5 separate regions of the Homo sapiens genome follow, and regions 1, 2, 3 and 4 are each reported to be linked to region 5. The links are microRNA targets in miRTarBase. Many come from high-throughput screens and were not tested one by one. Region 5 holds a microRNA gene; each other region holds the end of a gene's coding sequence.
Evidence for each region. Region 5 holds the annotated microRNA hsa-miR-523-5p (CUCUAGAGGGAAGCGCUUUCUG, at 3,603-3,624, shown strand). A microRNA usually pairs through its seed, bases 2 to 8, with sites in the 3' UTR of a target mRNA and lowers its output. Matches are read on the target gene's strand: a 7mer-m8 pairs with bases 2 to 8, a 7mer-A1 pairs with bases 2 to 7 and ends in A, and an 8mer does both.

Region 1 (6,429 bases), not on the chromosome of region 5:
ACCACACCATGGCTAATTTTTGTATTTTTAGCAAAAACAGGGTTTCACCTTGTTGGCCAAGCTGGTCTTGAACTCCTGACCTCAAGTGATCTTCCGGTCTCAGGCTCTCAAAATGTTGGGATTACAGGTACGACCCCACCATGCCTGGCCCTCCAACCCCATTCTTGAAAGCTTTTCTCTCAAAACCTAATGACCTATCAAACTTCCCCCTCCTAGTACACATTGGGGATTAGGTTTGGGGGGACACAGACATTCAGTCTCTAGCACCACATCTGTTGAGTCCTCCATGGAAATAAGGAAGCTGGACAGCCTCCTCCACACAGTCTCCCCTTGACTGCCATCGCCTCGGAGTGACATTAAGTAACTCACTAAGGCCAATGGCTGGGCTTCCTTGGGGACAGTTCCAAGGGCTGGTTCCTTGTTTGTGTCTGGGGATCCTTCCCTGCTTCTTTGCACATCTTATGTTTTTTGAGATGAAACTGAACATTTACAAGAATACAACGTGGCATCTCTGAGAATCAGATGTCCCCTCTCTTCAAGGTGTGTTGCTGCTGCTTGTTTACTGACTTTCCTGGATGGATCTTATAACATCTGTATTCCCTGTCACAGGTGGACCCTGAAGTCTCTGCTCAGTTAGGTGAGGTTGGATAGAGGTTTGCATCAATGCCTTGAGCCGGTAAGTCTCTCCTCAGTGCGGAGGGCTTTGTGTGTGTGGTGCACTCCTGCCCCTGCCGCACTCAGGCGGGCAGCTGATGTCACCACTGCAGCTCCACTTCCTGCCTGCACACAGCCTCCAGGTCAGCCAAAGGTCAGAGATGTGGCCTTCTCAGGTGCTTCCTGGGCACGTGCCGGCCCCTATGCACATCTTATTCCCCAAATCTTTCTCTCAATTTCCCCCACTAGTCTCTTGTTTGTCCCACATGCAAACGGTGAGGTTGTACAGTTGGAATGATTGCTTTTAGCCAGTGGTCTGAGGATCTGGCTTTTCCCCTAGAGAGAGACCTCAGCTGGTCAAATAATGACAAACCCAATGAATGGGGCTTTTCCAGTGAGTCCCAGACTAGTCAAATAGAGTTCTCTGGGGCAGGGGCTTTTGAGGGGCTCCAAGCCCAGCATGCCCCTCCAGTGAGTGGAGACTGTGTCCTTGCAGCTGTCACGGACATGGTGAGTCCACTGTTTTCTGGGCACAATAAATCAGGATATATTGTGCAGACAAGAAATACGAAGAAATATTAGGAGGAAGAATATAAATTTTCAAGTACGAGTTGGGAAGAATTAGAAAAAAAACAATGAGGAAAGGGGCAAGGTTGGCTTGGTTGTAGCTAACCTGGTGGAGAAACACAGCCATCTGTGATAGAGGGCCTAAGCTGTTAGGTTCCCCTCCAATGGTGAGACCACCTCCACAACCTGCCCTGTGTCCTCCTCTCTCCTGAGGCTGAATGCAGCTCTTGTGCCTTCAGTGCCAAGAATGCCACAGTCCCAGACCAGAGGAAGAGCTGATGTGGACGGTGGAAAAGGAGGGGGTGGGTGTAGAAGGAGAAGGCTGACAGCAAGGATTTCCTGAGGATAAACAAAAAAAATGTCACTTGAAACTGGCAAAAAAAAAAAAAAAAAAAAAAAAAAGTAAGGGTATAAAGAACAAGATGGAAATGGAAATCTTGTATAATTTCATTATGCAGTGTTTAATTTTAGGGTTTGGCACTTTCACGTATAACTTTTATACAATTATCATCATATACAACTTACGATTATTTTAAATGACTAGAGTTTAGTTTTTGATCTGGGTTAGCGTTCATAGTGCAAAGTTCTCTCGTTCCACTCAGTTAACCCCATTTTTTGGAGGGCTCTATGTCATTTTATTTTACTTACGAATCTTTAATTTTAACCTTTATTATAGATTAAAGGGTACACATACAGGTTTGTTACATGGGTAGATTTTGGAAGGCTGAGGCTTGGTGTCCCAATGATCTCATCACTCAAACAGTAAGCATGGTACCCAACAGGTGGTTTTTCAGCCCAGGTGCCCCTCCTGTCTCACCTGTCTAGTAATCTCCAGTGCCTCTGGTTCATGTGAATTCAATGTGTAGCTGCCACTTTCCAATGGGAACATGCAGTATGTAGTTTTCTGTTCTTGCATTAGGTTGCTTAGGATAATAGCCTCTAGTTCCATCCATGTTGCTGAAAAGGACATGATTTTGCTGTGTTTGGTGGCTGCATAGATTTCCATGGTGTTTATGTACCACATTTTTTTCATTCAATTCAGTGTTGCTGGGCACTTAGGTTGATTCTGTGTCCTTGCTAGTAAGAATAGCACTGTAATGAACATATTGGTGCAGGTGTCTTTTGGATAAAATGAATTCTTTTCCTGTGGATATATCCCGAGTAGTGGGATTGCAGGCTTGAATGGTAGTTCTATTTTAAGTTCTTGGAGAAATCTCCAAACTGCTTTCCATAGCGGCTGAACAAGTTTGCTTTCCCACCAACAGTGTCTGTTTCTTTTCCTCTGCAGCCTCACCACCATCTCCAACTTTGTGACTGGTAAGAGATGGTAACTCATTGCAGTTTTGATTTGCACTTATCTGATGATTAGTGATATTGAGCATTTTTTCACGTTTGTTGGCCACTTGTATGTCTTCTTTTGAAAAGTGTCTGTTCATGTCTTTGCACATTTTTTAATTGGGTTTTTTTTTCTTGCTTGTCTAATTGTTTAAGTACTTTGTAGATTCTGGATATTGGACCTTTGTCAGATGCAGAGTTTGCAAATAGTTTCCCCATTCTACACGCTGTCTGTTTACCGTGTTGCTAGTTTCTTTTTCTGTGCAGAAGCTCTTTAGTTTAATGAGGTCCCATTTGTCAATTTTTGTTTTTGTTACAATTGTTTTTAGTGTCTTCTTCATGAAATCTTTGCCAGGCCCTATGTCCACATTGGTATTTCTTAGCTTATATTCCAGGATTTTCACAGTTTTATTACCTGCGCAACATAGGAAGACCCAATCTCTACCTAAATATAAAACAATTTGCCAGGCATGGTGGCATGCGCCTGTAGTCCCAGCTACTCTAGAGGCTGAGTCTAGAGGATCACTTGAGCCCAGGAGTTGGAGATTACAGTGAGTGATGACTATGCCACTTCACTCCAATATGGTTGACAGAATGAGAAAATGTAAAAAAACTATAATGATAAAAAGGATTAATACAATTCTTGGTCAGTGCATGGAAAGGATCCCTGAGGTCTGAAGTCCTGCATGCTATTTTACTAGCAATACCGTTTCGAAGAATAAGGTCATGCTTCAGAGAAATGTCTGCTTTTCCACAATCAAAGAAGTAGAAAGAAAATGCCTTTTGCTGGGATTTCTTGTTCAGTTAAAACTTGTGCAGGAATTCCATCCATTAGCACCGAGAGAAAGTGGCAGAAGGTGTTAAGAAAAATGGCTGGCCGGGCGCGGTGGCTCACGCCTGTAATCCCAGCACTCTGGGAGGCCGAGGCAGGTGGATCATGAGGTCAGGAGATCGAGACCATCCTGGCTAACAAGGTGAAACCCTGTCTCTACTAAAAATACAAAAAATTAGCCGGGCGCGGTGGCGGGTGCCTGTAGTCCCAGCTACTCGGGAGGCTGAGGCAGGAGAATGGCGTGAACCCGGGAAGCGGAGCTTGCAGTGAGCCGAGATTGCGCCACTGCAGTCCGCAGTCCGGCCTGGGCGACAGAGCGAGACTCCGTCTCAAAAAAAAAAAAAAACAAAAAAAAAAAAAGAAAAATGGCTGCTGGGATCATGAGCGAAGGTAATGAGTGGCCTGAGATGTTGAGCCGACAATGTCCTCATCATCTGCTGGGGGCCTCTGGGCTTGCTAAGGCTTGAACTCCTGCTTTCCAGAAAGGCACAGTGGTGAGTAGACAGGCGGCCTCCCTGAAGGGAGAGCAGGAACCAGACCAGGCTAACAGAGGCTTCTTGATATCACCTTCCACCTTGAGGAAAGATGAAGCATTGGTTTAAGTGGCTGAGAAAAACCTGGGTCTGTTCTCCTGGGTGATCCTTCCCAGGCCCTCCCCATTTCAGAGCTTCTCCCCCAGATAAGGAACATGTTTTTCCCTCCAACCCTACCCCTGGCTGTGCAGCCTTTCCCAACCTCCACCCTCCTTCACCACACCACAGAGGCAGCCCAGGTCCTGTTACAGCCCATAGGGGCTCAGACCTGAGGCTGGTAATGAGGGGTCTGCACCCTCACTCAGGGCCTGCTCCTCCCTTTCATAGAAGGGTCTAGAGGACCTGGGGGAGCCCTGTCCAAAGAGAGGTCTCTGGATCCATGTTCCCTGGCCTTGGGTGGGTTTGTAGGCAAACCTTCTTTCTCCTTCGCTCTCAGCCTCTCCTCACCCTGGGAGCTGCACCCATAGCTCTGAATGGGACTGTCCCTGCCCTGCCCCATTCATTCCTGGCCAAGCTCAGTGGTGACCACGGACCTCTAGCAGCAGCTCAGCTGCCCTAGCTGAGTCCACTCTGCTCCAGGCAGGGCCATCAGCTGGCTCAGGATCTGGAGTGTGCACGAGGCAGAATGGCAGTGGCATCGTCCCAGGGCCTAGCCAGGAATCCCATGGGTCCAAGGGGCTCGGCCATTTCCTAAACCTCATCCTGGACACGCTCTACTCTTCACCTTCCACCTTAACTGCTGGGACTCAAGGTGCTCTCTCTGGGAATGCAGCCTTAGGAACTGGGTGGGCCAAGGCCCTCACAGCCCCCTCGTCCTGGGATTCCCCCAGGTTTCTCTCTTCTTAGCCTCCTCCAGGGACACCCCTTCCCTTGACATCCTTGGTGAAGTGGCCATGCTACTCCTCTCCTACTGTGCAGACTGCCCATGCCTGAGTTCCTGCTGCCTGCAGGCCACACACCACTACCCTTCCCAGATAGAAACCTGCTGTGAAATAGGCCTGAACTGTCTAAACCCTCTTGAACTCAACCGGCCCTGAGCCTTGATATGGGTCCCTCCCTTTCCCTCTGGCCCTGATGGTGAGAATCCATCAGAACTCAAGGTTGAGCTGCCCAGGTCATTGCAAACAGGCGACACCAGGTCTCATTCACCTGTCTCATGTCAGAACGAGAAGGTCCCGGCCATGGGGAGAGGTGGGACTCTGGAAATTCTCCTTTCCCTTCCTCCCACCTCACCCATCTGTCTCTCGTTCCCCTCACAGTTTTGCCCACAGTACCTGTCACTCTAAATGACTCTTCTCAGATGCCAGGGAGGATGAAGCAGAGGATGATGAGGAAGCTCCAGGGACTGAGGGTGGTGGCTATGGCTTTGGGTTGAGCTAAGCCTGGGGCCATGGTGGGTGGTGCTGAAAGGGAAACACAAAAGTGACAACTCTTGTCCACGCTCCAAATCTGAGGAGATGGCTCCTTAGCTCCTGCTACCCCAGGTCATCCGGGAAGGCAGAGGATTTGTCTCCCCTGCTGTGGGGCAGCCGCTGTGACAGGTCCTGGGGGTAGGAAGGGAGAAGGGGTGCTCCCTGTCCTCAGGGAGCTCACACAGCTGCTGAGGGAAGCAAGGTGACAGCACAGCCCACCCTCCTGCTGTGGCGGAAGAGGAGGTGATGCCCTAGGGCCGGGACAGGAGAGTCTCGGGGCTGCCATTCGAGGTGGTTTTGATGGATTTCCAGAAACAAACCAAGGGAGAGGAAAGGAAAAGTGATCCTAGGAGGAGGGAAATCTAAGGAGAAAGGTCTAGAAACACAATGACGCCCACAGTTTTGAGGCTGGTGAGAAATCCACAGTGAGTGGAGCAAAAGCAAGTGCAGTGAGGAAGAGGAGTCAGGAGGGAGAGCATAGGCACCCCAAGGAGGAGGCCCCCATGAGGGGTTCATGTTCTTACACTCACTCAAACACACACTCACACTCACACATACATAGACTCACACCCACTCACACCCATACACCCACACCCACCATACTCAGACACTGACAGACAAGGGTGTAACTCGATGGCATCTCCAACATGCTCCCAGTGCTCCCCTGTCAGTTACCTGTGGGTTCCAGCCTCTTCTTCCTGTGCATCAGGAAGTCCCTAAGCCAGCTCTTGCAGTCTCTCATTGAGACCATCTTGAAGAAGGTGGTCAGTCCGCTATCCTTCTCCCACTTCTCTTTCATCCGCCTGGCTCCAGCGTGAACCACTGTCCACTTTCTGTTGTTTGAGTCAAAGAGGAGGAACTTCCGTCCATCGAAGCTGAACTGCCAAGATCCACGGATGTATCCATCGGCTTCACACTCACAAGACATCCTGACCTGCAGCGTGAGGGGTCCTGCCCCAATCAGAAAGAGATCAGCCCTGGTGTTTACAAATTCTCTTCCCTGTCCCACATCCTCCTATGCTGAGACCATTCTCATCTGGTCCTGTTGTCTCCTCCAAGTCCTGCCCTTGCTGCTGGGCTTCATGGAGGTCCCATG
Region 2 (6,429 bases), not on the chromosome of region 5:
AGCATAGCAACTCTGTCATGCTTCACTGCAGCCTCAAACTCCTGGGCTCAGACAGTCTTCCCACCTCAGGCTCCTCAGTACCTAGGACTACAGATGTATATCACTATGCCTAGCTAATTTTTGATTTTTTGTAGAGATAGGGTCTCCCTATGTTGAGTAGGCTGGTCTTGAACTCTTGGCCTCAAGCAATCCTCCCACCTTGGCTTCCCAAAGCATTGGAATTACAGGAATGAATGAGTCTCTGTACCTGGTCTCTTCATGTATTTTTAAGATCTGATAATAAGTGCTTACACTTTTAGCACTGTCTTGGTGAATTTTATCATTATATAATGTCCCTAATTATCCTTGGCAATTTTGGTTGTTCCTAACTCTACTTTGATGAATATAAAAATGGCTTTTTAATTTATTTTTTGAGACAAGAGCCTCACTCTGTTGCCCAGGTTGGAGAGCAGTGGTGTGATCTTGTCTCACTGCCTCACAGGTTCAAGCAATTCTCCTGCCTCAGTCTCTGGAGTAACTGGTACTACAGGCATGCGCCACCACACCCAGCTGATTTTTGTATTTTTAGTAGAGATGGGGTTTCACCATGTTGGCCATGCTGGTCTCGAACTCCTGGCCTCAAGTGATCCGTCCACCTTGGCCTCCCAAAGTGCTGGGATTACAGGTGTGAGCCACTGCGCTCGGCCTTAAAAATTGGCTTATCTTTTAATTCATCTTGACTCATGTTTACTGTTTTTTGGTTTCTGAAAAATAGATTTAATAAATAATAACATTTTATCAAAGTTATTAGTATAGAGAAATAAATTGAGTGTTGTTATTATTCTATGATCATGATGACAGCACAGAAGTTAATGTGGCCAGCATATAGTTTTGATTAAAAATTATACAAGCAATTTCACTTGAGTCCAATTAATCTTTTATTTTGAGAGGTAATGTATAGAGTGGTTAAGAGCACAGCCTCTGGAGTCAGAACTGCCTGGCTTTGAATCCTACCTCCAAGTACCAGGTATAGACCAGGGGCAAATCATTAGGTTCTCTGTCTCTCTTTCATTTGCAAATTGGGATAATGTCATTCAGTTGAGAGGATTTTAATGAGATGATTCATAGTACCAGAGAGTAAAAATTATCACTGCCAGCCACAAATGTTAAATCGAAAATATAAATTTTTAGATAGGATGTCTCATAATTGTAAATATGTACAAGGTTCAGATACTTTTTAAAAAATACTATGAAACATTATTAAATAAGTCTAAGGCAAGTCAATTATAAAAGGAGGCTTCTTTTATGAACAACTTTTCTTTCATCAGTAACTCCTTGCAGTGTCTACTTTACAGGATGTTAGTTTGAACATGAACTGTTCAAAATCATATTAATTAATTCAATTCCAGTAATAATTACAATTGATCCAAGCAGGCTAACATAACACATGGTGGTTACCTGGCATTAGCAACCACGCTGCTGAAGTGTTGTTTAATTAGGTAAGAAGGCTGGCACAAAACTTCAAGTGGGCTGAAACTAAAAGTAAATATATATTAAGGATAGCATCCATAGCAGTGATGAATCTAAGTGATAAAAGGGATTAATAATGCATAAACACCAACTTTTAATACACATTAAACAATTATTTGTCATCATTCTATGTCTATTAAAAAAACATTAGAGGCTAGGCACGGTGGCTTATGCCTGTAATCTCAGCACTTTGGGAGAACGAGGTGGGCAGATCACTTGAGCCCAAGAGTTTGAGATCCGCCTGGGCAACACAGTGACAACACTGCCTCTACAAAAAAAAAAAAAAAAATTAGCTGGGTGCGGTGGCATGTGCCTATAATCCTAGCTATTTCGGAAGCTAAGGTGGGAGGATCTCTTGAGCCTGGGCTGCCAAGGCTGCAATGAGCCAAGATCGCGCCACTGCACTCCAGCCTGGGTGACAAGAGTGACCCTGTCTCAGAAAAAACAAAAAGTAAAGTGTCAGCTAATAGTCATACTATTAATAGGGATTTTATTGTTTCTGGTACTATGCATCTAACTTTAGTACTAAATTTAAATATACTGGGTAGAGAGAGCTTTTTATAATGTTTCAGAAAAAACAAAACAAAGTGTCAGCTAATAGTCATATTATTAATGGGGATTTTATTGTTTCTGGTACTATGCATCTAACTTTAGTACTAAATTTAAATATACTGAGTAGAGAGAGCTTTTTATAATGTTTCAGAAAAAACAAAGTAAAGTGTCATCTAATAGTCATATTATTAATAGGGATTTTATTGTTTCTGGTACTATGCATCTAACTTTAGTACTAAATTTAAATATACTGAGTAGAGATAGCTTTTTATAATGTTCTGTTAACACATTGCTAAAAGAGTTAATTAAATCAGAGGAGAAAAAAGCCACCCAGCAAAGGATTGAATTTCATTAACTTTATTGAAAGGTATATCCCTTAGTACTAAAACATAATGGTAGTTGGTTAGTTTACCTCTGCCAACTCAAAATTAACAATGATGTATTCAAAATATTGAAATTTATCAGCCTTTTGGGAAAACTAAAAAGTTACCCATAAAACATGGTTTACAAAAGTTAAGAATAAGATATACTGTGGTTCTTTGGTTTTTCATTGTGTACTGATCCATAACGTGATGTCAAATTGGATATAGCCATCATGGATAGACTCAGGCTATACATTGCACTGAGTAACTGTTTACAACACTTTAACACTGTACTTCTTACATTCACTAACTGCCATGGAGGATCCTAAACACTACTTCAGCAGCTTCATTCATAGTTATGAAGGTGTCTACTTGCTTTTCTTAAGATTTTTGTTTTGGCACAGTAAGGGCATCAGTGGAAGTATATTCTCTATTTATAAAATTGCCATCACTTCTAACTTAAAAACAGTCTGTAGTAAAAAATTCTGGAGTGTTCAATCTAGTCTGAACTTACCTTAGTGTGGGAAAGCAAGTTTTCGAAGTGATAATTTATTTTGAGTTACTAATACAATAGAAACTAGTTTTCTTGATGGGATTCAGTTTGAGGCAGTAGGTTCTGTATAAAAATTTTTATCGTAGATACAAATGTCACCTGTTTTCTAGAAAAAAATATTAAAAGATAACTTAATGAATATGCCAAACTTTATAGGTCTGTATTTTTCTTTATATAAAATGCCCTCAAATTTAAATGTAATTCCCATATAGCAATAAAGTCCACATCTCTAGATTACCTATTACTTGCATTATGGGGTGTGTTTATACTGCCTAGAATGTTAACCCTTATTATGCCTTAAAAGTACATTTGTGAAATGTTGCTTTTGACATAAACCTCATAACTTAAAATTTAAGTAGGAGTAGGATTAGAATAATGACAGTGATTGAAGCTGTGGGAAGACTGATAGTTGATAGTATTAGTGTGACTCCTCCAATAGCATTTTCAATACCACCTAAATATATTGATCCAATATCTAAAGTTAGATCAATGATAGAAATGAAGATTCACAGTTTACCTTCTCAGGCTTGTCATTAGCATTTCACATTTAGGCTTTTAGCTTTGATTTGAATGCTTCACAGATGAATTCAAATCTAAACATAATTCCACTACAGCATAATATTAGGCAGTTTTCCCAAGTCTGAGACCATCATGCTTATCTCGTGATGTTTTGAGGCTTCATAGCTTAAATCCATTGTAACATTATGGAATCCATAGAACAAGGTTGTGGAGAAAGGCTTCAGAGAAGTTTTTTGGTGCTGTAATAATCCTATTTAAATAAAGAAAACAAACAAAATCCAACTTAACAGAAGCCAGTCTGCCTAAATACTACTAAGAAAATTGAAATGTTCATATCTAATATTCATAATCACATGTAGATGTATTAAATGTTAACATTTAGTTTTGAGTAGAATAAATCATCACTGAGTTAGGAAATTTATATGGCAAGAATGTATATCACATATGCAGAAAGCAAGTTTACATTTTTTATGCATATAACTACTTTGCAGTAGTCCAGCTGCTATAGCAATGATAGGTTAGTATAGTGTTGACACACTCTGGCAGTTTCCAGATACCCAATGTAGAGACCATCTATCATATCCTACTTTTTTTCTTTTTTTTTTTTTTTTTGTGGCGGAGTCTTGCTCTGTCGCCCAGGCTGGAGTGTAGTGGCGCGATCTCAGCTCACTGCAAACTCCGCCTCCCGGGTTCCCGCCATTCTCCTGCCTCAGCCTCCCGAGTAGCTGGGACTACAGGCGCCCGCCACCGCGACTGGCTAAATTTTTTTGTATTTTTTAGCAGAGACGGGGTTTCACCATGTTGGCCAGGATGGTCTCGATCTCCTGACCTCGTGATCCGCCCGCCTTGGCCTCCCAAAGTGCTGGGATTACAGGCGTGAGCCACTGCATCCGGCCTACTTTTTTTTCTTTTAAGTACAATATCCAAGTTCATATTGATTTTGCTTATAAGCTAACAGTCTCAAATTAGTTCATACTTGGTTCAGACTTTTGGTGCTGTTGTCCTGCTCAGCTTATGTAATTTTAAATCAGTCAGATACATACAGCAAGATCATGTGCAATTAAAAAAAAGCATGATTTTAGTGCTACAAGGAGGATGCTGTTCTCTAAGCTGAAAATTTAATGAAATGGCTAACGTATGTATCAGAGGTTGGATAATTCCTTACTCCTAAGATGTTGTACCTTGTATATAGTAAAGGCCTTCAAATATTAGCTGACTAGATCAGTGATGTCATCTCCCCCTTTACTATTCCAACTCCATTTTGTTTATTTTGAAGATAATTACTCTTCTTTAGTTGAAAATTATGGCATTGGAAAATGTTCTCTATCTGGAGAATAATAACGGACCAAATTTACCAGTTAAGGGACCATTTCAGGAATTGTTGGAAGGTGAGTTATTCTGTAGTAGCTATGCTTCAATTGCCGTGCAGTACGCCCAGAAACAATCCATTTCAACTTCTGAACATTTGGTTTGGAACACTTATTTGATGAATATTCAGTTAAACATTTGGATACAAGCTCTTGCCAGAAGGTCAGATCTCTGCCATTTATCTGTACATACATAAATTTTAAAAAATTATTACTCCAAGTAAGTCCCACCTTATTTAACTACATTAATAAATGCAATCCTATGAACATGTGTCTTTGCTCATTAAAAACATTTGAGGATAGCTACTTAAGTTTCAAATAAACATATGACATCTCATTTTACTTCAGGAGATAGAAGGGGTTTAGTTTCTTTTACAGCTGTTAATAGGATTTAGGCTATGTCCTTCACATACCTTGGAATGTTTCTGAAGACATTCTATTCCTTCTGTTAACTCTACACACTTCTGTGCTTGGATCTCTAATGCAATGATAGACAATGCCAACACAGAAGGCTAAAAGAGATAAATTTAAAGTAAATGCCAAATATAAAAACAGATCATATCAATAGGCATAATCTTTATAAAATATTTACCTTTGCTTTAGAAAATATGATCCTGCAATGACATGCCTTCAGTTGAGCTTCTAGTCTTTCAAAATTAATGCTATTTCTCCTTTAAAAAGAAAATGGTATTACTTTTATTAGGTAATACTACATCTAGTCAAAAGATGTTTTTAGAAAAACATTGAAGTCAATTTTTAAAGTAAAGCTTATGCACACTTAACATAGCAAATGAACTATTGAAAGGAATTCCCCTTCCATCAGAGATACTAACTTCTAAAGGCACCATATGGGAGTTTTAGATGATTTGGGCCAAAAAATTAAAATGAATAGTACTATGCCACAAATACAAGATTTATTTTCTTTTAGTTTTAATAAATATTTCAACATCCACTGAAGGTCCTTTTTTTCCATAAATTTGTGTTAGATGCTTTCCTACTAGGTTCTATAAAGTCAAAATGTACTTTAATCCCAAGAATTAGCTTTAACGAAGCTATTGACAATGGAACATTTTCTCACTTATGATGGACATTAAAGTTCAAGGAGCCACAGCTGTCATTTTACTTATTTTTATTAGAATTCTATGAGGATACTGATTTTATGCAATATCCATACAATACCATTCTGATTTCCAAATGTCTCTTGTTCAAAACAAAGGTCACTTACCTTTCAAGTGGCAAGTTCTCTTGAAGGAGTGAATAATACAGTTGCAGAAATTGAAAGGCAGTAGTAGCTTTGACTTTCCAACACACCTTCTCCAATACAATCTTTTCCATTCTCATCAAGTCTGAAACCGTAAACCTATATTGACTTATTCGGATCAAGTCAGTTGCCAATGGGACATTCCTTTCCTCTTCTATTGATTTTACAGCCAAATAAAAGCAGCTCAGTCCAACACACCCAAGGTGCTTGGGCTGTACCTAAAAAATCAAAAACAAAACCAGTAAGCCCATGACTCTACCTTATTTCAATTAAAACATAAAGGATAATCTAGAACTCCGACCCAAC
Region 3 (6,429 bases), not on the chromosome of region 5:
AGTTCGGGTGCCATATTCTCACCTTCTATTTGAAAGACTCTACCTAGCTTTCATGACCTTTCCTTCTTTGCACGCACCACCACCCCCTGCCCAAACCAGGAGCCTAGGTTTCAGAAAAGAAAACAGTGAACCCCAAAGATAAAGTCACATGCTGGGCGTTTTGAACCTTCCCCTGCAAGAAAATGAAAGGTTATTTTTTCTTCCCGGCGTTAACCTTTCCTGTGCTGTGCCGGAAAAGTTGAGGACTTTTTACATTTTATTATTATTATTATTGTAGAGATCAGGGGTCTCACTATGACGCCCAGGCTGGTCTTGAACTCCAGGCTTCAAGCGATCCTCCCACCTCGGCCTCCCAAAGTGCTGGGATTTGAGGCGTGAGCCATCGCGTCCCGTCCGTGGATGTTTTTTTTAAAAGGTTGAGTAGCTTCACTCGGGACCGCAAAGGTGGAGTCCCCGCCCCCTGGTGCAGCAGCGAAGACAAGCGGAGCCACCTGTCAGAGGGCTGTGGGCGGGGGCGCCCGGGCCGTGAGGGCCTTGGAACCGGAGGGTGAGTGCAGTTGAGCGCACGCTCAGAGCAGACCGCTAGCAGGAGGCAGGATGTGATAGTCTAAGACCCTGGAAGCTGACGGCCAGAGGGAGGGAAGGGTGGTCACAGAGGAGAGGCAAAGCAACGGGAGGTGGAGGATCCTGGAGGTGTCTGCAAGGAGAATACACAGCAGCGAGGGGCTGCAGAAGCGGACCCAGCGACTTCTGCGCTGACGCGGGGCGGGCGGGAGAGAGGAAGAGAGGGGAGCGCGGTGGCGCTGCGAGCTGGCCCCGCCGGGGAAGGGGCTGCCATGTCCCGTGAGCGGCCCCCGGGCACCGACATTCCCCGCAACCTGAGCTTCATCGCCGCGCTAACGGAGCGCGCCTACTACCGTAGCCAGCGGCCCAGCCTCGAGGAGGAGCCGGAGGAGGAGCCAGGCGAGGGCGGGACGCGGTTCGGGGCCCGATCCCGCGCTCACGCACCGAGTCGGGGCCGCCGGGCCCGATCTGCACCAGCCGGAGGCGGCGGGGCCCGGGCGCCCCGCAGCCGTAGCCCAGACACCCGCAAGAGAGTGCGTTTCGCCGACGCACTGGGGTTGGAGCTGGCTGTCGTGCGCCGCTTCCGTCCCGGTGAGCTGCCCCGGGTGCCCCGCCACGTGCAGATCCAATTGCAGAGGGACGCCCTCCGCCACTTCGCGCCCTGCCAGCCCCGCGCCCGCGGCCTCCAGGTAGGCGGCGGGGGCACCTCCCCTCCTGGGGACCTCCTCCAGTCGGCCGCAGCGGGCTTGTGGGAGTGGATTTGCCAAAGAGCACCCATCTCCATCCCATCCCTGGGCTTGCGCCTGCCCATCCCTTTTGGGGACCCCATCTGCGAGTGGCTCTAGGCCACCCTGGCAGCTGGGCCGCACTCTGCCGGCCTGGACGCCGGGGTCGGCCTCTGATTGGTCCAGTGCCTTGCTCTGACACCGCCCCCTGTCTCTCCCCTCTCTCCGCCCTGGGCTCCCTCCTCCCGCTTCTTCTTTCCCCCAGGAGGCGCGCGCCGCCCTGGAGCCGGCCAGCGAGCCCGGCTTCGCCGCCCGCTTGCTGACGCAGCGCATCTGCCTGGAACGCGCCGAGGCGGGCCCGCTGGGCGTGGCCGGGAGCGCGCGCGTGGTGGACCTGGCCTACGAGAAGCGCGTGAGCGTGCGCTGGAGCGCCGACGGCTGGCGGAGCCAACGCGAGGCGCCAGCCGCCTACGCCGGTCCGGCCCCGCCCCCGCCGCGCGCCGACCGCTTCGCCTTCCGCCTGCCCGCGCCGCCGATTGGGGGCGCCCTGCTCTTCGCCTTGCGCTACCGTGTGACAGGTCACGAGTTCTGGGACAACAACGGCGGCCGTGACTATGCTCTACGTGGGCCCGAGCACCCGGGCAGTGGCGGAGCTCCGGAGCCGCAGGGCTGGATCCACTTTATCTGAGACGAGGCGCCTGCGGCCGACGGCGGAAAACACCAAAGGCACCCGGGGGCGGGGCGACCCGATGTGGCGGGGAGGAGTAGGAGAGACCAGGATTGGCGGGAGCGGTCCAAGGGAGTCAAGCCGGGGAGGGCGAAAAGGGTGGGGAAATCAGGGGCGTGGGGGCGTGGGGGCGTGGGGGCGGGGGGAGTGAGCGGAACCAAAGAAGCTCCGGGAGATCCGGGTGTTAAAAGCTGGTTGGATGTGAGTGGAAGGAACTCAGAATATAGGAGGAAGGAGACCCGAAACGGCACCGGAGGGATTATAAAAAAAGGAAAAGAATGGGGATGATGGTGGCCTTCCCTTCAGTGAGTGGGCTCTGGGAGAAAGGGAGGAGGTCCATCAGGCCTAGGCGGTTGAAGAAGGTTAAGAACCTTTTGGAGATGGAGGAGGTATGATGTGAAGTAGCCCACCCAGTCGAAGGCATTTACATTGCTGGCGCATTCCCTCTTCTTACCGGCCTTTTCCACCTCAGATCCCCCTGTCCTACCCATCCTAGCTTTAACTCAGCCATAATTGCCTTGCTTAATCCCAGGAACCTGGCCACTGCTCCTTGGTCCTTGGCATTATGACGGGATTCCCTTGTCACCTCTGACAGTTCCTGGCTGCGGTGTCCGCGGACTGGCTGGGGAGTGATGACAGGTAGCTATCAGAGCTCCAGCCTCCAGGCAGCTTTAGGGATTAAAACGGAGGCCAAAGCAACTCCAGACCTGTTTTTATAGCCAAATACTGAGCCTCAGGGGTTGTACACTCAGGGGCTTCCAGGAAAATGCCAGCCTTACTTTTCTGGGGTGCCTTTTAATAACCTCCAAGCACTTTGTGGACTGTTTGTCGAGGGACGGTGAATCAGAAGAATCACTATTCTGATTTCCTTTGTCTCCGAAGAGGAAGTCCCTGACTAGCTATATAACTTTGGGCGAGTTACCTCTCACTTCTTTGTGCCCCAGTGTTCTCCTTGGGAAACTGGATTTAGGTTAGATGACCTTTTAAGGCTCCTTGTATGATATTTTGTGATCTGTACATGGCAGAGTATAGATTAGGAGCCAAATTTTCCAACCTAGTGCTATGGTTCAGAATACATAGCACCCCAAGCGTCTGGCTGGAGCCGAGGATGGGTCCTCCAGTTTTTGGCACAGATGTTCCGGAGCCCAGGAAGCATCCCATAACCAACCTTCAGCCCCACCGCCACCCCCAGCGTATTCCAGAGCCGCTTCCAAACCACAGCCTATCCTCTGCTCCATTTCACTCTTGTCCTCACAGACTTTCAGCCTCCATGCTCTGAGACAACTGTGGGTAGGTACATCTCTGTTGGTGGAAATGATGCTTAAGAACCCCAAAGATTAAAGGAAACAATGTTAAGGGCTTTTGTGAGGATAAAAGATAATGGGTATATGGAATAGAAACATTTCAAATGAAGAATCAAAGCATTTCAATCAATCCACTTGGTTGTAAAAAAAAAAAAAAAAAAAAAACAAAAACAAAAAAACACCAAAGCAACTTGAATAGTAAATGGCACCAGAAGATGGCAGTCTGCTCCATAACCAGAGCAAGTGCAGTGGGAAAGCTGGACTCTCATACCCACTCACATTCATGCCTTATATAAGCCTCTCCTCCTGGTTAACCTTAACAGGGGAGTGATTCCTCTGCTGGTTGCTGTTTTTCCTTTTCTCTTACCCTATTCCTAACCTCTTTGCTTCTCTCTTTCTTTCCTTGTGTCTCTTCCTTCTCTTTTCTTTTTTCTTTTAACATATAGGGTATTTTTTTCTTTTAACATATAGGGTATTTACCTTCATTTTGTTTATTTCCATTTGTTTCCTTCTTCATTCATGTTCATCTCTGCTATTCCTTCTCCCTCCAGAAGGGATGGAAACCCTATTTTCTTTTCTCCAAGACCATGGTTGGTCTGCTTCCCTCACTCGGGCTCCTTGACAGTCTTCTAGAAGAGAGAAGGAGGAAAAGAAGCAGTTCCTGATGTTACAAATGAACAAGGATCTCCCAGGTAACCAGCTCCCCACACCCATTTCTGTTACTAATTTCTCAAACAGAAATTTCTGGTTCCCCTTCTTCCTTATCACTGAGTGAAAGGGGACAGGCATGCACATGTGCCCATACATGCATTCAGAATAGAGTGTGGGGGCAGGGGCGGTAGTTCATTCCTGTAATCCCAGCACTTTGGGAGGCTGAGTTAGGTGGATCATTTGAGGTCAGGAGTTCAAGACTAGCCTGGCCAACATACTGAAACCCTGTCTCTACTAAAAATACAAAAATTAGCCGGGCATGGTGATTCATGCCTGTAGTCCCAGCTACTCATGAGGCTGAGGCAGGAGAATCACTTTAACGGGGAGACAGAGGTTGCAGTGAGCTGAGATTGCACCACTGCACTCCAGCCTGGGTGACAGAGTGAGACTCCGTCTCAAAAAATAAAAAAAAAGAATAGAGTATGAGGCTTGTTGGCTTGTTACCATGCCCATCCTGTCCACAGCCTTAGTCTTTGAGAAAAGATGGCTGAAAGAGAGGAACTCTCCAAGTCATTCCGCAAACAAATGCCCATTTAAACATCATCCTTGTCTTGTGAAGAAAACAGGAAGAATGTCATGTACCATGTGGATCACCTTCAGTTCAAAGTTGCAGCAAAGTGAAGAAAGAAACTACTGGAAGCCACCCAGCAATGCACTGTTTAGTCATCAATTAGGAGCCCATGGGAGGATAATAGGGAGACTGGGTGGAGGCTCAGTGTGTAATAATCTCTTGTCTAATGTATGTGTGTCACTGCCATGTTGTATGAACAATAGTGAGGGCTCACATTTACTTAACACTTGTGTGCGCAAATCTGGGTTTTTCTTCCTTTCCAGAACTATGACTCGATCATAAAATCTGTTTTGTTTGCATGCATGCCCAAAACAACCCTGTAAGTAGAACATTGTCATTATCTCTGTTTTAGAGATGAGGAAACAGGCTCAGAGAAGCTCAGAAATTTGTTCAAGATCGCACAGCTAGTAAATGGCAGAAGTAGGATTGTGAACCCAGGGAATCTCCAGAGCCTCTGTGTAACCATGATGTTATATTTTTTTTCCTCTTTAAAAACAAAATTTAAAACCTTGCTATAATCTCTTATTAGGAAATGATCATAGTTTCTGACTGTGCTCTGCCTTCCCATCCTGCCAATCTCCTGGACTGGCTTGGAGAAGACAGGGGGCCCCCGAGCTTCATCTGTGACTCGAAGGAGTTTGCTGCTGTCTCCTGTGTCAGTGTCCCATCTATGCAGGATCAGCACAGGACCCCCCTCACCTTCCCACTTACACTCTAGCCTTTCCATACATTGGAATTCTCTCCTGGCCCTAGCCAGCGCTCCACACCTGTTGGTGTGCCACCTCCCTCCCTCTTCCCCCACTGGCCTTGAACAGGCAAACCCCCTAATGTCGCCACTAGGTTGGGTCCGTGACTAGGACACCTGCTAGAGGGTCTGTGCTTGGGCCTTTTCTAGGAATCCCGATGTTACTGGGTAAGTGCCAACTCTGTGGGCAGAATGCTAATGATAATCCTGTTCCCTGACCTCTTTCTCAGAAGTACCCTGGCTCACTCTCCCCAATCTCAGCTTTATAGAACAACATTTTGGTCTTGATTATTCCCATATCAAGCTGCCCCAGGGCTTCGGTAAGCTGTTAGTTGCCCCACTGCCTCAAGGCTGGGTCTGGCTGAGCTACTTCTTAGGCACACAAATAGTGGGTGTCTCCTTGGAACCTGACACAAAACTATCAGTGCTACCAAGCCTTGTAAAATAGGGAGGAAACTAATATTTCTTGAGTGGCTTCTGAGTGCCTGGTGCTTTCGCGGCTCTCTGGAGAGATTCCTTGCCCTGATGGCTTTGGTGTGTACTCCTCTCCCAGGACTTCAGCACTGAGATTTTCCCAACCCCCTGGCTTTTCCTCACCTTGGGTTGAGTTGATCCGGCACTACCACAAACCCCACCATCTGCAAACCAACCAAGATTAGGCAGTATGCCCTTTCCGTCTTGCACTGCTCTTCCAAAACTTCCATCTGTATTTCTCACACCCTCAGTAAGCAAAGCTGAGTGTGCATGGACAGAGCTGCATCCACTGCTTTCTCCCAGCGGGTGCAGTCTAATCTGACACGGGGAACACTAGGAGTTTAGCGGAATCTTCAGCCACCCTATTAATGTGTTACGCATTAGGCATTGTAGTGGAAACTCCTCTGATGGCTCATGACTATATGAACAGGAGCAATTTGGAATATAACATGTCAGCTGTGGACTGGGAAGTGCCGTGAGAGAAAACACTACCTGGGTCATAGGCTTGGGTCCCTGAGGCAACCCAGCAGGGACACTGTTGCCCATTCCTCTCATCCAGACTGCAGGTGTCTTCCTACACCTCCCTGTCCCATAGCCTCCGTCCTGTT
Region 4 (6,429 bases), not on the chromosome of region 5:
TGTAGAAACCTCTGCGCCATGAGAGCCAAGGTGAGCGGTTCCTGGTAGTAAGCTTGGGAGGTAGGAGTTGGCGAGTAGTAGCGAGGAGACGAAGGCAAGTCCGCCATACCTCCTGAACTACTGGGTTTCAAGGGTGCCCAAGAGCTGGTGGGAGAGAGAAGGTAGTTTGTGAGAGAGCTAGCGGTTAAGTGCTATGGGTAGAGAGGGTGGGCTTAGAAAAGGGTGGAATTCTGATCTTATGTTGGGAGGGTGTCCAAGTTACTGATGTAGTTGTTACGACCAATCTTTCATACTTCTTGGTTAAGAATCTGTCCGGTTCTAAAGAGTGCATTTCATATCCTTGCTAAGCCTACTAATAAGCTTCATCCCTTTTTTTTTTTTTTTTTTTTAATTATCTGCTGCTTGTGATCGGTTGCTAGTGGAGGAAGAAGCGAATGCGCAGGTACGTTGAGACTTTGCCAGCCCAGGAGGAGGGAAGTTCCTTGGACAAAACTTAGGAGAAACATTTGGTTTGGAAATCTTAAAAGATCTTTAGGAGAAAAACGTTTGAGTGTTTTCTCCCTGGAGCCAGGATTTAACAGAACAGAGAACGATAGAACCGTAGTGCTTGTTCATTTTACCACCTCATTCTTTATGTGGACGTTTGATTTAATGTGGGAGGGAAAGGCAACTCTGGTTTGAGGTGTATTCCATTCCTGTGTCTGCTTTTCAGGCTGAAGCGCAAAAGAAGAAAGATGAGGCAGAGGTCCAAGTAAACCGCTAGCTTGTTGCACCGTGGAGGCCACAGGAGCAGAAACATGGAATGCCAGACGCTGGGGATGCTGGTACAAGTTGTGGGACTGCATGCTACTGTCTAGAGCTTGTCTCAATGGATCTAGAACTTCATCGCCCTCTGATCGCCGATCACCTCTGAGACCCACCTTGCTCATAAACAAAATGCCCATGTTGGTCCTCTGCCCTGGACCTGTGACATTCTGGACTATTTCTGTGTTTATTTGTGGCCGAGTGTAACAACCATATAATAAATCACCTCTTCCGCTGTTTTAGCTGAAGAATTAAATCATCTTGTCTATTATGTTTTTTATGGTTCCATCGGGTGGGGGTTTTCTGTCATTAGAGTTTGCCCTGTCACTACCTGTGCTATGGAGGGTATCAAAGCTATAAAGGCAACAGCCCGGGTTACGTGGTGTGGTTTGCATCTCGCTGGAGTTGGATGGGATATGGTACGTCTCTGGAGGCAGGTTTTAGGTTTCGCGGGTTATTAGGGGCCAATGCTGGTACCGCCCCTTTCCAGGAGGGCTGCCTTGGCGACTACCGCTTAGACCATGTCGTGCCTTTGGGTTGGGTTGCCATAGTGACACGCAAAGCGTGCTGGGAACGCCCTGCGGCATGTCGCACGCGTACTTCATACACCATAGAGTATGGTTCCGGGTCTGCTGGCTAGAGCGTCACTTCTTCCGCAGGAAGCGGAAGAGCGATCGGGTAGGCGGCTCTTTGTCGAAGCTAGAGGACCGGCAGGCGGCAGCAGCAACTACGGCGGCGGCGGCAGGTGAGGGAGGCGGGAGACTTAGGTGGAGGCCGCGCCCGGAGGGGAGGAGTCGGGGCCGGCCCAGCGGCTGGGCTCGGCCAGGCCACAGAAGGCCCCCCAGAACCGAGCTGGCTCGTCCTCACACCCCAGGGCAGTGCCCCTTTTCTGAGTGACCCCGCATCGCGAGCAAACGCCAGCTTCGTGACGTCACAACCCTGCCCATCCCCTCAGCTTGATGACACCTGGAGCTCCAGCTCCCCGCTTCACTTCGCGCGCCCTTAGTGTCCCATTCACGTAGCCCACGGCTGAGCGCCGGCGGCACTGCACGGAACCTGCCAAGCTAGAAGACTTGCTGCGGGAAAACTCCTAGGACTTCTTTCGCAAACTCTAGGGTGTTGGGAAGCGTCACAATCACTGCCTTCAAGTCTAATCGGCCATCCCAATGCACTGTCAGACGCTGCCTTTTTGAGGTTCCTCACTAGCCATTACTAACTCCAGCCCTTGGCGGTGCTCTGACCCTCACATCCTCTTTCATCTTGAGGCAGGGCGCCCCGCACTCTTTGTTCACTCAGGGCTGGTTTTCCAACCCCTCCTCCCAGTCCCTCCGAATTAGTTTTACTCTTCTTACTGGCAACTTCTCCCTTGGACAGGTGAAGTTCAGTTTGAACCCTGAGGAAATCCTCACGTTCTCGAAGCTTTGCCGTTTTGTCAGATTTCTTGTGACAACCACCCCATAGTCCTCCACTCTTACTCCTTCTTCCACCCAAGTCTCTGTTTTTTTCCTGCTCAGAACCCAGCAGTGATGTGGAGGTGGAGACCCACAGGAGCCCCGGACTTCACCTGAGCTACCTCAGGTATCAATTCTGGGAGAGTGGGGTGGGGAGGAGCATCATAACTAATTATCTGCTGCTGGTGCGACTTGCAACGTGAGCCAGGCTTGGATAGATGGCATTTGTACTTCACCTGGTCATTCCCCTTTACTAAAAGTTTGTATCTTCTTTTACCACTTCTTTCCTTGATTGCTTCTATTATTCTGGGACTACCTCTCTTTAGAGGAGGAGGACCCTCTTACAGATTCTCTTGTAACTCTGGCCTCTGGTTTGGTTAGTTCATTTTAGGGAGATCTGAAGGCAAAGTCACAGTAGTGGGGTGGGGGTAGGTCAAGGCCAAAGGAATTAGGAAAGATTCCCTTATTCTCAAAGGGAACAATATGAAGTTTTCCTATTTCAGCAGCAGGGGGAGCCTGAACACCGCATAGGAAAGGCTTGGGAGGTCAGACACGTGGTAGCAGGGACTCCAGGTCTTACTGGGGGTGGAGAGAGGGGAGGGCTAGAACCAGGGCAGTGGACTGACATTCCAAAGCTCTCTTGGGAAATAGGAGACTTAAAAAGCTTTTATGGAGTCTATAAATAAAGAGGATCTTTCTGGGTTGAGGAATGGTGTGGTTGGATGTCAGTGGGATCTTCACATAGGGGAGTAGGAAGGGGGTGGGGAATGGGGAAAGGTCACTTGTTCCTGTGAAATTAACTCCTTCCCACTTGACCTTATCACAAATGGTTTGTCCTAGGAAATCTAGAAGTGGAGACTCTAACTTAGAACTCCTATCCTGAAATAGAAGGGGCTTACCTCTCTGCCGTTGACAGTGATGATGGCTGGGAGGGAATACTAAAATATGACAGGTTTTGAGACTCCCCTCAAGCTGGTGACACCAGTCTCTTCACCCAGGATTTCTTGGCTTCTAGAGATTTGATGTGTACAGAGCCCTTACCTGAGGAAAAGGAAAGGGGGTTAAGGAAGTTTTGTTACCAGTGTCCCATCTTCTACAGCCCTAGTAGCTCAGTAGCCCATCTTGGGCACTATTCCCAGTTTCCTTCCAGACTATTCAGATACTGACTGCAGTTTTAATTTCACTTCCACAACTTTAATAAGGTCAGCTCAAAAGGAAAGATGAATTCCAACACTATTTTTTCCCTGCTCCGTCCTGGGCCTATCCCTCCTCCGTTAGCCAGGCAAGTGTGAATCATTCTGACCCAGACCAGGTGCACAAAACCCTGGGAGGGGCTTTTGATGAGTCAGACATTTCAGCCAGAATTCTTATCCCTTAGATTCTCCATCTCTAAAGCCATTGCCCCTCTGGGCCACCTGCTTTATAGTCAGGAAGAGTGGGATCTCCCTGGAGGACTCCTGTTTGATACAGTTCTCCTCTTTTGTAGTGGTCACCAAGAGTGGCAAGATAAAGAAAACCCTGAGTTGGGCGGGACCAGGATGCCTGACCGGGACAGCTATGCCAACGGTACCGGGAGCAGCGGTGGAGGCCCTGGAGGTGGTGGCAGCGAGGAGGCCAGTGGGGCAGGGGTAGGCAGTGGCGGGGCCAGCTCAGATGCCATCTGTAGAGACTTCTTGAGGAATGTGTGCAAGCGAGGCAAGCGTTGCCGATATCGCCACCCAGACATGAGCGAGGTGTCCAACTTGGGGGTGAGCAAAAACGAGTTCATCTTCTGCCATGACTTCCAGAACAAGGAGTGTAGCCGCCCAAATTGCCGTTTCATCCATGGCTCCAAGGAGGATGAGGATGGCTATAAGAAGACAGGAGAGCTTCCCCCACGGCTGAGGCAGAAAGTAGCAGCTGGCCTTGGCCTTTCACCGGCTGACCTACCAAATGGCAAGGAGGAGGTCCCTATCTGCCGTGACTTTCTCAAGGGTGACTGTCAGAGAGGAGCCAAGTGCAAGTTCCGTCACCTGCAACGGGATTTTGAGTTTGATGCTCGGGGTGGAGGAGGCACTGGTGGGGGCTCAACAGGCTCAGTCCTCCCAGGACGACGTCATGATCTCTATGATATCTATGACCTTCCTGACAGGGGCTTTGAGGACCATGAGCCAGGCCCAAAACGCCGGCGAGGTGGATGCTGCCCCCCTGATGGCCCTCATTTTGAGTCATATGAATATAGTTTGGCTCCACCGCGAGGGGTGGAGTGCAGACTGCTAGAGGAGGAGAATGCCATGCTCAGGAAGCGGGTAGAGGAGTTAAAGAAGCAGGTCAGCAACCTGCTGGCCACCAATGAGGTACTACTGGAACAAAATGCTCAGTTCCGCAATCAGGCCAAGGTCATAACCCTGAGCTCCACTGCACCAGCGACTGAGCAGACTCTGGCCCCCACTGTGGGCACTGTTGCCACTTTTAACCATGGCATTGCCCAGACTCACACTACTCTCAGCAGCCAGGCTCTACAGCCTCGTCCAGTGTCCCAGCAAGAACTGGTGGCCCCTGCTGGAGCTCCAGCTGCTCCCCCAACTAATGCTGCACCTCCTGCTGCTCCACCACCCCCACCCCCACACTTGACCCCAGAGATCACGCCACTGTCAGCTGCCCTGGCTCAAACAATTGCCCAGGGAATGGCACCTCCACCTGTCTCCATGGCTCCTGTGGCTGTATCTGTGGCTCCTGTGGCCCCTGTGGCTGTATCGATGGCCCAACCCTTGGCAGGAATCACAATGAGCCACACCACCACTCCCATGGTGACTTACCCTATCGCTTCCCAGAGCATGCGCATCACGGCCATGCCACACTGATGGGGCTAATGGACACTCCCCTGGTATAGCCTCGCAGGGCTGGGGTCAGGGGGCCCTTGCCCACTCACCTAGCCTTCCCCATCCCTGTCTGAAGGGCTCCCTTGAGAACTAGGACAAGAGACTACAAGGAGTATGTCCTGAGGAGGGGTTGGGATGGTGTGTTTTCTCTCACCTCCCTTTTATGAGGGTCCTCTTGTCCATCTTCAAGCCTCACAGTGGGGGCTTGCAGAGGAGTGCAGACTGAAGCCAGCAGAGAGGAAGGACTGACTGAGGGGCTGTGTCCTCTTATGGGAATTTGGGAACATCCCTCGTCTTGTCCTCTCTTCTGCACAGCACAGGTTCCAGCACTGGTTTTAGAAGAAAAAAATACCCTGCCCAGAGGGAAAGCCAGGAAAGATTGGGAAGTGGGTGGTCAGGAGAGAAGGCCTGATAGGAGCCTTCAGACAATTTGGGTCCTAGTTGCTTGGGTTGGACAATACAGGAATTGCTTCTGGGCCCTGGGAAAGCTGGGACCATAGTGCTCCAGCCCAAAGACTAGGGGAGCATTCATTACCCTAGTTTGACCTGAAAATCCATAGGGCAGGGCCCACTACTTTCCAAAGAAATAAAAGAACAATTATTTTTAACAAATGGAGGCAGTGAAAACTTGCTTAGCTATTCTGTGTGGAAGATGGGAGCAGTAAATAGATCTCATGCCAAAATGGGATAAAGACCCCAGCCTCACATAGCTTTGGTAAGATGGATAGAAGCCAGTGAAGAAGGGTAGGGACCCAGAACAAGACCAAATGGGGCTTTGGGGAAGGCACTTTATGGGGTAAAAGCTTTGGAGCCACCCAGTCTAGTTTTAAAAATAGTCCCATCTGTTTCTGGTCTCTGTCTGTATGTGCTATTCCCAGGTTGCCTCAGTAACCAGGGCTCCTAGGGTCATTTAGCAGGGCAGGCAGTAAGGAGAGTGTATTTGCTGAAATGCGGATGGGATGTTACATAGTTGACAGATCCTTATTCAAACAGAGCAGGACAGGTGGAGTTGATGGCCATTGAGTTGATGGCAGTTGCCGCTCAGTTGATGGCAGTTAATGTCCCTCCTACCCCACCCCTTCAGTGGCCAGTTCCTGAAGCCTTCAAGGCTTGGGAGGTCTGGGAAAAGAGAGTCCTTCTAGGGACACAAGCCTCAGGGTCCATCCCTTTCCTCTGTCTCCACATAGGACCAGAAGTTTTAAATCTACTTAAGTCAGTAAGGCCAGGGGCCCCAATAGTCAAACCTCAGTTCCTCCTCAGCTCACGGCTGATGTAGGGAAAACAACTCAGGTGTCTAGTCTAATGGGACAGTA
Region 5 (6,429 bases):
AGGATGTTTGTGTGTGCAACAATGTATATTCTTCAACATGGTAGATTCCATTTTGACTGCTCTAATCAGGACTGTGTGTCCCTGTGCTGGAAATCAAGTGAACACTTGGCTGAAAATCCACTGCTGTTCTCTAGAAATCCAGCCCAATTCTCTTGGTTAAATATAAGGTATGCATAGTAGGCATTGCTTTTTCTTTCTGGACACAAAACTCAGGAGGATTTCCCCTTGATGAACAAGGCTAACCTGCTGAGCCTTTGTAGGAAGGAACGGGAGATGGTCTTTTTAGGGGTCTATGTTCTGGATTCCAGAAAACATGCAAACAGAGCCAATAAATAGGTCTTTATTTTTGTCTCTATTTTAACCTGGTCAAGGAAAATTTCTACAAAAAACCCAGGGTGCTGGAGCAAGAAGATCCCATGCTGTGACCCTCTAGAGGGAAGCGCTTTCTGTTGTCTGAAAGAAAAGAAAGTGCATCCTTTTAGAGGTTTACTGTTTGAGGAAAGCAACAGTGAAGTTGATGCTGATCTTGGTAATACATTTGCAGAGCATGCTTATCATCAGACTTGGATGATGGTGGGATTCTGTTTTTATTTTGTTTTTTTTTCTAAGACAGAGTCTCTCTTGCCCAGGCTGGAGTAGGGTAGCACTTCCAACGTAGATCTTTTAGGCTCAAACGGTCCTCTTTTTTTTTTTTTTTTTTTTGAGGCGGAGTCTTGCTCTGTGACCCAGACGAGAGTGCAATGGCGCGATCTTGTGTGCAAGCTCACCTCCTGAGTTCAAGCAATTCTTCTGCCCCAGCCTCCCAAGTAGCTGGGACTACAGGTGCCTGCCACCACTTCCAGCTAATTTTTGTATTTTTAGTAGAGACAGGGTTTCACCACGTTGGCCAGGCTGGTCTCAAACTACTGACCTCAAGATCCACCCACCTCAGCCTCCCAAAGTGCTGGGATTACAGGCGTGGGCCATTGTGCCCAGCGGTCCTCTTTTTTGAGATGGAGTCTTGCTCTGTGACCCAGGCTGGAGTGCAGTGGCAGGAACTTCGCTCCCTGTACCCTCCACCTCCCAGATTCAAGCCATTCTCTCCTGAGTCAGCCTCCCTAGTAGCTGAGATCGCAGACATGAGCCACCATACCCAGCTAATTTTTGTATTTTTATTATTTATTTATTTACTCATCGATTTTTGAAACAGAGTCTTACTCCGTCCATCAGGCTGGAGGTCAGTGGCACAATCCCACGTTCAAGCAATTCTCCTGCCTCATCCTCCCGAGTAGCTGGGATCACAGGCGCACACCACCACGCCCGGCTAATTTTTGTGTTTTTTTTGTTTGTTCGTTTTTTTTTTTTTTGTAGAGACAGGGTTTCAACATGTTGGCCAGCCCAGTCTCCAACTCCTGACCTTAAGTGAGCCCATACACAATCAAGAAGAGAGCGAGACCTGTTCTTTTTTTCTGTCTTTGACTATTTGAGACAGTCTTGCTCTGTCACCCGAGATGGAGTACATTAGTGTGATCTTGGCTCACTGCAACCTCTGCCTCCTGGACTCAAGCAATTCTCTTTTTTTTTTTTTTGGAGAAAGAGCCTCTCTGTGTCTCCCAGGCTGGACTGCAGTGGTGTGATCTCAGCTCACTGCAACCTCAGCCTTCCAAGTAGCTGGGATTGCAGACATGTACCCCCATACCAGCTATATATATATATGTATTTTAGACACAGTTTCACCATGTTAGCCAGGCCATTCTTGAATCCTGACCTCAGGTGATTTGCCGACGTAGGCCTCCCGAAGTGCTGGGATTACAGGTATGAGCCACTGCACTCAGCCTTTTTTCCTAATTTTGAATATGGGACCCATTATGAATTTGGGTGTCACCTATGTGCGGGGGCTATGGAAATCTCTGTCACCCCATTCATTTGTGTGTGCTGTCAAAGCACCAATATGTGGGAATTATGCTTTATGTGAGCATATAGTATATGGAACTTTGGTTTTTTTTTATACAGGGTCTCAAAAAAAAATGAGTATATTTCATCACAATGTTCTGTGTATAATTCCATACACACAAAATAGTCTTCTATACACAGAGAACACTCTTATATCACTTTGGAGTTGTTTTTGTTTGTGTATTTTGTTTTAATTTTTATGAGACAGGGCCTGGCTATGTCGCTGAGGCTGGAGGGCAGTGGTGAGATCTTGGCTCACTGCAACCTCCACCTGCCACCTCAGCCTCCTGGATTAGTGTCTACAGGCAGGCACCACCACCCCTGGGTAAGTTCTGTATTTTTGGTACTGATGAGGTTTCAGCACGTTCCACAGGCTGGACTCTTAACTCCTGCGATCAAGTGATCCTCCCGCTGTTCAAATTTTACTGAGGAGCTTTTAAGGCCTCGCCTGTGGTCTGTCCTGTAGTGTCCCTGTCCTGGAACTCAAGTGAATACTTGGTTTAAAATTGATTGCTGTTCTCTAGAAATCCAGCCCAATTCTCTTGGTTAAATATAAGGTATGTGTAGTAGGCACTGCTTTTTCTTTCTGGAGGCGAAACTCAGGAGGATTGCCCCTTGATGAACAAGGCTAACCTGCTGAGCCTTTGAAGCAAGGAACTGGAGATGGTCGTTTTAGGGGTTTATGTTCTGGATTCCAGAAAACATGGAAACAGGGCCAATAAATGCATCTTTATTTTTGTGTCCATTTTAACCCAGTGAAGGAAGATTTCAACCAAAAACCCACGGTGCTGGAGCAAGAAGATCTCAAGCTGTGACTCTCCAGAGGGATGCACTTTCTCTTATGTGAAAAAAAAGAAGGCGCTTCCCTTTAGAGCGTTACGGTTTGGGTAAAGCAACGTTGAAGTTGATGCTGATCTTGGTAATATATTTGCAGAGCATGCTTATAATTAAGACTTGGATGATGGTGGGTTTCTGTTTTGTTTTTTGTTTTAAATCAGAGTCTCACTCTGTCACCCAGGCTGGAGTGCAATGGCGCAATCTCGGCTCACTGCAACTTCCCCCTCCTGGGTTCAAGTGATTCTCCTGCCTCAGCCTCCTGAGTAGTTAGGATTACAGACATGCGCCACCTCACCCGGCTCAGTTTTTGTATTTGGTGGAGATGGGGTTTCACCATGTTAGTCAGGCTGGTCTTGAACTCCTGATCTCAGGTGATCCACCTGCCTCAGCCTCCCAAAGCATTGGGATTACAGGCGTGAGCCACCACGCCAGGCCTGTTCAACATCTTAGATTTCATTTTGGATGTTCCTGTGAGGACTGCGTGTCCCTGTGCTGGAACTCAAGTGAACGCTTGGCTCAAAATCCATTGCTGTTCTCTAGAAATCCAGCCAAATTCTATTGGTGAAATATAAGGTATGTCTAGTAGTCATTGCTTTTTCTCTTTGGAGACAAAACTCAGGAGGATTGCCCCTTGATGAACAAGGCTAACCTGCTGAGCCTTTGAAACAAGGAACTGGAGATGGTCCTTTCAGGGGTTTATATTCTGGATTCCAGAAAACATGCAAACAGGGCCAGTAAATGCATCTTTATTTTTGTGTTCATTTTAACCTGGTCAAGGAAAATTGCTACAAAAAACCCAGGGTGCTGGAGCAAGAAGATCTCATGCTGTGACCCTCTAGAGGGAAGCGCTTTCTGTTGTCTGAAAGAAAAGAACGCGCTTCCCTATAGAGGGTTACCCTTTGAGAAAAGCAGCATTGAAGTTGATGCTGATCTTGCTAATACATTTGCAGAGCATGCTTATCATCAGACTTGGATGAAGGTGGGGTTCTGTTTTTTTTTTTTTTCTAAGACAGGATCTCTGTTGCCCAGGCTGGAATGTGGTGGCACTTCCAACCTAGCTCTCTTGGGCTCAAATGGTCCTCTCTTTTGGGATAGAGTCTTACTCTGTGACCCAGGCTGGAGTGCAGTGGCGTGATCTCAGCTTACTGCCACCTCCACCTCCCAGTTTCAAGCCGTTCTCCTGCCTCAGATTCCTGAGTATCTGGGATTATAGGTACCTGACACCACGCCTGGCTAATACTTGCATTTTTCTTTCTTTTTTCTTTTCTTTTTTTTTTTTTTTTTTTTGAGATGGAGTCTTACTCTGTCACCAGGCTGGAGTGCAGTGGTGCGATCTTCGCTTATTTCAACCTCCGCCTCCCAGTTTCAAGTGATTCTCCTGCCTCAGCCACCCGACTAACTAGGATTTCAGGCATGCACCACACGCCTGGCTAATTTTTTGTATTTTTAGTAGAGACAGGGTTTCACCATGTTGGTCAGGCTGGTCTCGAACTCCCGACCTCTGGTGATCTTCCCGCCTTGGCCTCCGAAAGTGCTGGGATTGCAGGCATTAGCCACCCCGCCCGGCCATTATATATTCTTATATATATAATACCATATACGTGCAAAATACTCTTCTACATGAAGAGAATACTCTTATATCACTTTGGGGTTTTTTTTGTTTGTTTGTGTGTGTGTGAGTGTATGTTTTATTTGTTTTTGGATAAGGTCTGGCTCTGTCACCCAGTCTAGAGTGCAGTTGTGCCATCTCTCTCAGCTCACTGCGACTTCTACCTCCCACCTAAGCCTGCTGAATTAGTGTCTACAGGCATGCACCACCACACCTGGCTCCGTTTTGTATTTTTTATACACATGGGCTTACACCATGTTGCCGAGACTGGTCTCGAACACCTGAGCTCAGGTGATACTTCAGTTTCAGCCTCCTAATGTGCTGGGATTAGAGGTGTGAGCCACCGTGCCCCACTTGTAGTTGTGTGTTTCTGTTCAAATTTTATTGAGGAGTTTTTAGGGCCTAGCCTGTGATCTACCCTGGAGGATGTTTGTGTGTACAACAATGTATATTCTTTAACATCGTAGATTCCATTTTGGATGCTCCCATCGGGACTGTGTGTCCCTGTGCTGGAACTCTGGTGAACACCTGGCTCAATATCCATTTCTCTTCTCTAGAAATCCAGCCCAGTTCTCTTGGTTAAATATAAGGTACATATGTCTATGAGGCATTGCTTTTGCTCTTTGAGAACAAAACTCAGGAGGATTGCTCTTTGATGAACAAAGCTAACCTGCTGATCCTTTGAAGCAAGGAACTGGAGATGGTCCTTTTAGGGGTTTATATTCTGGATTCCAGAAAACATGCAAACAGGGCCAATAAATGCATCTTTGTTTTTGTGTCCATTTTAACCGGGTGAAGGAAAATTCCAACAAAAAACCCAGAGTGTTGGAGCAAGAAGATCTCATGCTGTGACCCTCTAGAGGGAAGCACTTTCTCTTGTCTAAAAGAAAAGAAAGCGCTTCTCTTTAGAGGATTACTCTTTGAGAAAAGCAACGTTGAAGTTGATGCTTATCTTGGTAATAAATTTGCAGAGAATGCTTATAATCAGACGTGGATGATGTTGGTGTTTCATGTTTGTTTTGTTTTGTTTTTAATACAGGGTGTCTGTTGCCCAGGCTGGAGTGTGGTGGTCCCTCTCCAACCTAGATCTCTTGGGTTCAAGTGGCCCTCTTTTTTGGGTCAGAGTCTTGCTCTGTGGCCCTGGCTGGAGTGCAGTGTCAGGATCTCTGCTCACTACAACCTCTGCCTCCTGGGTAAAAGCGATTCTCCTGCCTCAGCCTCCCAAGCAACTGGGATTACAGGCATGTGCTACCATGCCCGGCTAATTTTTGTAATTTCCTTTATTTATTTTTGAGACAGAGTCTTACTCTTTCGCCCAGGCTGGAGTGCAGTGGTGCAATCTCGGCTCACTGCAACCTCCAACTCCCACCTCAGCCTCCTGAATAGCTGTCTACAGGCATGCACCACCACACCTGGCTAACTTTTGTATTTTTTGTACAGACATGGTTTCTCCATGTTGCCTGGGCTGGTCTTGAACTCCTGAACTCAAGTGATCCTCCCACCTCGGCCTCCTAAAGTGCTGTGATTAGAGGTATGAGCCACCGTGCCCCACCTGTACTTGTGTGTTTCTGCTCAAATTTTATTGGGGAGCTTTTATGGTATAGCCTGTGGTCTCTCTGGAGAATGTTTGTGTCTATGACAATGTATATTCTTCAGTATGTTATGTTCCATTTTGGATGCTTGCATGGGGACTGTGTGTCCCTGTACTGAAACTCAGGTGAACACTTGGCTCTCCGTCCATTGCTGTTCTCTAGAAATCCAGCCCAGTTCCCTTGGTTAAAGATAAGGTATGTCTAGCAGGTATTGCTCTTTCTCTTGCAGACAAAACTCAGGAGGATTGCCCCTTGATAAACAAGGCTAACCTGCTGATTCTTTGAAGGAAGGAACTGGAGATTGTCCTTTTAGGGGTTTATATTCTGGATTCCAGAAAACACACAAATAGAAAACAGGGCAAATAAATGCATCTTTCTTTTCGAGTCCATTTTAACCTGGTTAAGGAAGATTCCAACAAAAAATCCACGGTGCCACAGCAAGAAGATGTCAGGCTGTGT

Region 1: miRTarBase lists ULBP3 as a target of hsa-miR-523-5p. Seed matches in the 3' UTR shown: 7mer-m8 at 3,070-3,076 and 7mer-m8 at 3,057-3,063.
Region 2: miRTarBase lists CCNG1 as a target of hsa-miR-523-5p. Seed matches in the 3' UTR shown: 7mer-A1 at 3,081-3,087.
Region 3: the mRNA of PPP1R3E is a reported target of hsa-miR-523-5p. Seed matches in the 3' UTR shown: 7mer-A1 at 3,949-3,955.
Region 4: the mRNA of RPL41 is a reported target of hsa-miR-523-5p. Seed matches in the 3' UTR shown: 7mer-A1 at 874-880.

Annotation. Positions count from the first base shown.
Region 1 is chr6:150,059,390-150,065,818 of GRCh38, forward strand. It overlaps ULBP3 (UL16 binding protein 3), which reads right to left. Exons shown (of 5, transcript NM_024518.3): 3 at 6,009-6,284; 4 at 5,196-5,324; 5 at 1,664-3,962. The coding sequence ends at 5,218. Among named protein-coding and RNA genes, the nearest start is that of ULBP3, 6.5 kb to the right of the region's middle.
Region 2 is chr5:163,440,990-163,447,418 of GRCh38, reverse strand. It overlaps CCNG1 (cyclin G1), which reads right to left. Exons shown (of 7, transcript NM_004060.4): 3 at 6,088-6,341; 4 at 5,455-5,533; 5 at 5,276-5,374; 6 at 4,851-5,045; 7 at 2,403-3,745. The coding sequence ends at 4,854. NUDCD2 (NudC domain containing 2) reads left to right here. Exons shown (of 4, transcript NM_145266.6): 4 at 1-893. Among named protein-coding and RNA genes, the nearest start is that of CCNG1, 6.6 kb to the right of the region's middle.
Region 3 is chr14:23,296,984-23,303,412 of GRCh38, reverse strand. PPP1R3E (protein phosphatase 1 regulatory subunit 3E) reads left to right here and starts at 554. Exons shown (of 5, transcript NM_001276318.2): 1 at 554-1,253; 2 at 1,555-2,115; 3 at 2,549-2,655; 4 at 3,872-4,012; 5 at 4,496-6,429. The coding sequence starts at 837. The coding sequence ends at 1,977. RefSeq lists silencers at 768-1,277, 1,358-1,417, 1,428-1,857 and an enhancer at 1,918-2,107.
Region 4 is chr12:56,116,770-56,123,198 of GRCh38, forward strand. It overlaps RPL41 (ribosomal protein L41), which reads left to right. Exons shown (of 3, transcript NM_001035267.2): 1 at 1-30; 2 at 420-442; 3 at 713-1,198. The coding sequence starts at 19. The coding sequence ends at 755. It overlaps ZC3H10 (zinc finger CCCH-type containing 10), which reads left to right and starts at 1,497. Exons shown (of 3, transcript NM_032786.3): 1 at 1,497-1,549; 2 at 2,319-2,382; 3 at 3,742-6,429. The coding sequence starts at 3,794. The coding sequence ends at 5,098. RefSeq lists a silencer at 1,172-1,221 and an enhancer at 4,386-5,383.
Region 5 is chr19:53,694,798-53,701,226 of GRCh38, forward strand. It overlaps MIR523 (microRNA 523), which reads left to right and starts at 3,588; the gene lies at 3,588-3,674. MIR519B (microRNA 519b) reads left to right here and starts at 416; the gene lies at 416-496. MIR525 (microRNA 525) reads left to right here and starts at 2,736; the gene lies at 2,736-2,820. It overlaps MIR518F (microRNA 518f), which reads left to right and starts at 5,218; the gene lies at 5,218-5,304. It also overlaps LOC107985346.